2 separate regions of the Homo sapiens genome follow, and region 2 is linked to region 1. The links come from fine-mapping of genetic effects on gene expression. Tissue or cell type: whole blood. Region 1 holds a variant in brackets; the other region holds the start of a gene. All regions are shown on one strand. Distances are from middle to middle.

Region 1 (2,749 bases):
AGGGCCCCACTTGGACCCCCAGCCCCAGTCACAGATGCCCATTCTCCAACCCCCAGCCCCAAGCTGCCCTCACCACCTTGCAGGCTCTCGGAAGTCAGGCAGAGAAGGAAAAGGGCTGCGGGGAAGGCCCAGGCGCCCATGACTCTAGGCAGAGTGGGAGGGCCCACGCCCTTTGGGCCTTTAAACACCCCTGGCTGGGTGGGGACCCTCGCCCAGGCCCCCCAGCTGTGAGAGGCAGAGGCTCTGCCTGCAGACCCTGGGGGGTCACCCCCACCTCCCCCTGTGGCAGGAGTCTAGCTCTGGCCCCTCATCCATCATGGGCGCTGACAGCAGGACAGGCCCCCTAGACTTCTCCGCCCCTGTCAGCGACTCAGGCCCTGGCGCCAGGCCCAGAGGGCTCAGATGTCCCCCCAGCAAGGGGCAGGCAGGCACCCTAGGCCCAGCCCAAACACAGCTGGGGAGAGGGCGGGAACCAGGGCTTTGGAGTGTTGCAGACAGCAGGGGTGGGGGTGACAGCATCTCAGACCCTGTCTGACAGGCGGGTGGTGTTCCCAACAAAAGCCAGGTGTCATCCCGTCTAGTCCTGAGACCACACAGACCCCACCAGGGGGCCCTTTGTCCTCATGGAGGCTCAGCCTGCCAGAGTGGGCCAGAGCCCCCAACTTCAGAGCCACCCCTTCCTCCTCCCTCCTCCTTCCATGAGGGGCAGGGACACAGGAGGACGGGCCAGCTGTGCCCAGCCTCTCTGAGAGTCCGCGGAGGCCTTCCAGCTCTGCCTCGTCTCCTGCCCCAGCAGTGACTCTAACTTTGGGTCACAGACTAGGGGAGCCACCACACAGTGTTGGGGGGCAGGACCGCAGGAGAGGCTGAGGAGAGGACGTGGGGGGCTGCGAGCAGCTCTCCATGCCTGGGGCTGGGTGGATGGACTTGGAGCCGGGGCCCTGTGCTGGGGGCCTGGCAGGGAGGCACTGGGCATGGGGGTCTGGACAACAGGCATCACGCCCCAATGAGCCTGCAGACCCCACCAGGCTGGCTGGGGACGGCAGTGACTCAACCCCTAGCCCCTGCACCCTGGTCCAGAAGGCCCCACACCCTGTCTGTCTGCTGGCCTGT[C/T]CCTGGCCCAGCCAGCCCCTCCTGGTACCTCTGGCTAAGGAGTCCAGCCTGCCAAGCCAGTCAGCCCAGCTAGGCTGGGGGTCTGCAGAAGGGCTATAATGAGGAAGGGGCAGCAGGGGCTTCTCCGAGAGAGGCTACTGAGCCCACACCTCTGCGGCCAGGTCCAGCCGCCAATAGACTACAGGGTTAATTACCACCAGGTACCCTCACTCATAGGCCAGCCCAGCACTGAGGTCCCTGTGCCCCCTCCCTCTCTGCCTCCCCTCTCACCCACATCGTAGGCTGTGCCCCACTGCTGCTCTGCCCACACATGAAGCCATCCCCAGGGCTCACACCCACAGGCACACCACGATGCCTGCGGTGCCCACCTCCCAACCACAGACCCACCTGTGCACGAGGACTGTCTGCTCACGGCAGGCCCCCTCAGCCCAGCGCCTCAGAACAGTGCCCTGAACCGCCCCCCCACCGTCCTGCCTGGCAGACAGCCATGAGTTGGGGTCCCCGAGGCTGGACCTTCATGGGCTGCTGACAGGGGCTCAGGGATGCTCCCTGGCCCCATCCATCCTATGAGTGCCCAGGGTAGCTGGGACGGTCCATTCAGACTCCTGGAGAGGGCTTTCCTGCCAGGCCACCTGCCCCGCCCATGGCAGCAGGCGCATGTCCCCCGTGTATTCACGGAGGGCAGCCGAGTAGCCCCGGGGCTAGCAGCTGGGTGCTGGATTCACACAGGGTGCAAACACCCACTCCATCTGGTTCGGGGCCTTCCCGAGTGTGTTCACTCTCCCCTAAAATGACAAGAAGAGCAACTCTGTGTTGGGGCTACTGGGAGGAACTGCTGCTTATCCTCGTTTGCAGATGGGGAAACAAAGGCAGGGGGAAGGGACTTGGCTCAGATTGTGCAACTCTGGAGCAGTGGGGCTGAGATCTGAACCCCAGCAGTCTGGCAGTCCCCACGTCTGCTGTCCCTGCTCTCAAGCACCTTACATGCTTACAGGCGGGCAGTAGGCCCAGTTATGCCAGATGGGACGAGGTGTCTGCTTCAGACCTGGGCCGGCTGAGAGCTCCTACACAGACACATGGCTTGCCCTGCAGGGCGCTGGGAAAGCGTAGCCCAAGAGGAGGCAGGCGGGAAACCAGGAGACGCCCTGTGGGAGGTAACGGATGGGCGCCTGCTTGGCCACTGCCAGAGGGAACACCAGTGCCCGCTACCACTGCCAGGCTGCCTGGTGCTGGCATGACCTTGGAAAATGCCAGCCAGCCCAGGGCCTCGGGCCAGCCTGACAGCCACTCAGGACCAGGCTGGACCCAGTCGGGTGTCCCAGCCCCTGCAATGCCGCCACTCCGACTCCCAGCACAGCCAGTCCTCTCTGCTCACCCCCAGACCCACCCAGGCAGGGCCTGCCTGACAGCACAGAGACTGTGTGTGGGCTGGGAGAGCCCCTGATGGAGTCTTGACCTGGGCTACCCTTTGCTCCCAGGCACCCTGGCCTGAGGGGACACAGCACAGCCTCGGAACAGAGCAGCAGCTATGAGGGGCTAGGGCTGAGGGCCAAGGGCAGGGTGAGAGCAGGGGTGTTGGAAGTGCTGGACCCAGGCCCAGGAAGTGCATTGCCTAAAATGGCAAGAGACTCCCTGC
Region 2 (2,500 bases), 72 kb before region 1:
CTTTTTGTACATTCGTTTTTATTGTCCTGAGTGGGATGAATAAGTTTCTAATATACAAATTTCCCCCTCCTCATACATGGAAAAGAAACTGACAGAGGCCCAAATCGTTTCCTGGCAGCCCAGAATTCCCAGGTAACTGACCAAAGTCTCCTGCCTTCTGTCCTCATGCTGATCTGTTTGTATGAGCAACTGGGGCAACCCCTCGCATGGTTGCTGGGACAGCCGCCCACAGCCTCAGCTCCAGGAAGCACTAGGGGGTCACTGAGGCTGGACAGCAACTTAGGAAGTGGCCCCTAAGTGACTCTACCCATGGGGTTCAGGCCATCGGTGTGGCCTGAACATATTGGTCCTGGGGTGGAGGAACACTGCAGAGCCACAGAAATGCCACGAAACAGCCAGCTACTGCCCCCCACAATCCCCGCGACTAGTTAAAATGCAGATTCCTGACCCCACCCTGAGTGAGGATTCAGGGTGAGTGTGGGATCTGCAAACTTAAATTTCCCAGTGATTCTGATGTGGGATAGTCTAGAAGAATAGTTCCAGAGGCAATCATTTAGATCCTAAAACTGTGGGGAGTGGGGACAGGGTGAACGAGGTGCCCCCAGGTTCCACCCACCCCTCACTCTAGAGCTAAGGCCTCCCAGGAGGGAGTGCTGAGGAGGCAATGACCAGGCCTGAGCCAGGGTTCGGTCCCTGTCTTTCCACCAGCGTTGAGTTGATGGGAGTCAAGCTGTTCTCTCCAGGGTGCAAGCAGGGAAGGGGTTCTTGGGGATAGAAGGGTTCCCCATTGAATGGAAGGCAGTTCTGGGCCCAGGGAGGTGCCCAAGTTGGGTGGCCTGGGGAGGAGGAGGTGGGTGGCGGGGGAGCAACGGAAAAGGTTAACAGCCTGGAGAGCAAGGGTCGTCCCTCCAGCCACTGATTCCACCACCCAGGACGTGGCGCATGGGTCCTCAGGGGTGATATCTGGGCTGGTTCCGGGTCTGGGTCCCAGGTCCCCACCAGTGTGGCAGTGACTGTAGGGGGGCCTTGTGGGAGCAGAACGGGGTGAGAAACTGCGGGTGGGAGAGGGGCAAGGCACAGCTTCGCAGTCAGGCCTGTCCTCTAACGACCCAGGAATGCCAGACGCAGTGGCCAGGCGGGGCGGGGCTGCGGAGAGTCCCAGGACTGCGCTCCGAGAAAAGCTGGCTCTTCCTGGAAAAGGAAGGTCCTGCGGGGCCAGCGCGCGACCGGGGCTGCCGTCCCTCCGGGTGAGGCCGCGGGCCCGCCCCTTGTCCTCCCCGCCCCTCCCCGGGCTCGGGAGGCGGGGTCCGACCGCCCCCTGGCGGCAGCCGGGAGGGAACGACGGGGGCGACGACCGACGCATGGTCCCAGCGCGCGTGCGCCCCTGAAGGCGGGTTCCGGTGGCAGCGCCGGGGTCTCAGACCCTGAGGAGACTGAGCCCAGCGCCAGGCGACCGGTCCCCGCCGCCGCCGCCCCTGCGCGGGAGATCCCCCCTGCTTAGTCCGCGCCCGAGCCCCCGTCCGTGGGAACAGACAAGGGGCCTCCGCAGCGCCTCACAACCCCCGACCAGGTCCAGCGGCGGGGGACTCGGCCGTGGAGGGCGCTGTTCGGTCTGGATGGCTCCCCCCATCAGCGGGAGGCTACACCCCCCACCAGCAGGGGCAAGAGGAGCAGCGGGATGGGAGCAGGCCAACGTCCTGCGGCCTGGTTGAGCTCGCACTGACAATCGCAGGTTTCGGACACGGGGGTCGCTTTGGGGGGCCTGGGGGCGCGGGGACCAGAGCTCGGGGCGGGGCAGTCCAGCCAGTTGGGCCCCATGGGCTGGGGGGCGTCCGGCTCGGTCTTGATGCTGTTCTTGGGGAAGCGCCAGTAGTGGGCGCCCTTGAAGAAGTAGGTGTCACCTGGAGGAGCAGAGCTTGAGTCCCGGTCCCTCCCCGCCCCGCCGCTCCCTGATGCCCAAGGACCCCCATCCCCGCAGGGTGGCCTCCATGTCCCCATTCCCCACATCCCTCTCCCCACCCCCAGGCCCAGTAACCCGCAGGTCACCGCGCTCCCCACCTGCGTTGCTGACGGTGACATCGTCAGGGGAGGGGGGCGCGCCTTCCCAGAGGCTCAGGTCGCGAGGGTAGCCGGGGTCCGGGCGCGCCGCCGCCTCGTCGTAGCGCCAGTACTGCCGGCCGCGGACCAGGTAGGTCTTCCCGTTCTGTGGCCACGAGAACACGGCGTCCACCTCCTCTCCCGGGGGCAGCCCCAGCTCCGTGAGCGGCCGCGCCCCGCCCTCCAGCTGCCGGTCCTGGAACACCCAGAACTGGGGCCCTGCAGGGTGGAGGCCGGGAGGTCAGGGGTGGGCTCCCCGCGCCGGCCCCAGCGCGCCCCGCCGCCGGCCCCACTCACCGCTAAAGAGGAGGATTCGGCCGTCTCGGTGCCGAGCATAGGCGGCCTGCACCACCCTCACCTGGGCGGGCAGCCCCTCCCAGAAGCGGTGCAGCCGTGCGGGTCG

The links. PIP is the estimated chance that this variant, and not a neighbour inherited with it, causes the effect. A credible set is the group of variants that fine-mapping cannot tell apart.
Region 2: it holds the start of MMP25-AS1, and the variant in region 1 is the best candidate, but not a certain one, in a credible set for the expression of MMP25-AS1 in whole blood (INTERVAL, PIP 0.75).

Annotation. Positions count from the first base shown.
Region 1 is chr16:2,985,668-2,988,416 of GRCh38, reverse strand. It overlaps GREP1 (glycine rich extracellular protein 1), which reads right to left and starts at 155. Exons shown (of 29, transcript NM_001396456.1): 1 at 77-155. The coding sequence starts at 140. RefSeq lists enhancers at 1-11, 12-963. The variant C/T (reference allele first, on the strand shown) is at 1,114.
Region 2 is chr16:3,058,228-3,060,727 of GRCh38, reverse strand. It overlaps MMP25-AS1 (MMP25 antisense RNA 1), which reads left to right and starts at 1,358. Exons shown (of 5, transcript NR_123723.1): 1 at 1,358-1,732; 2 at 2,026-2,188. It overlaps MMP25 (matrix metallopeptidase 25), which reads right to left. Exons shown (of 10, transcript NM_022468.5): 8 at 2,395-2,500; 9 at 2,059-2,316; 10 at 2-1,901. The coding sequence ends at 1,630. LOC124900372 (sialidase-like) reads left to right here and starts at 1,358. Exons shown (of 3, transcript XM_047435000.1): 1 at 1,358-1,732. RefSeq lists an enhancer at 215-1,120 and silencers at 1,159-1,628, 2,089-2,138, 2,279-2,408, 2,439-2,488.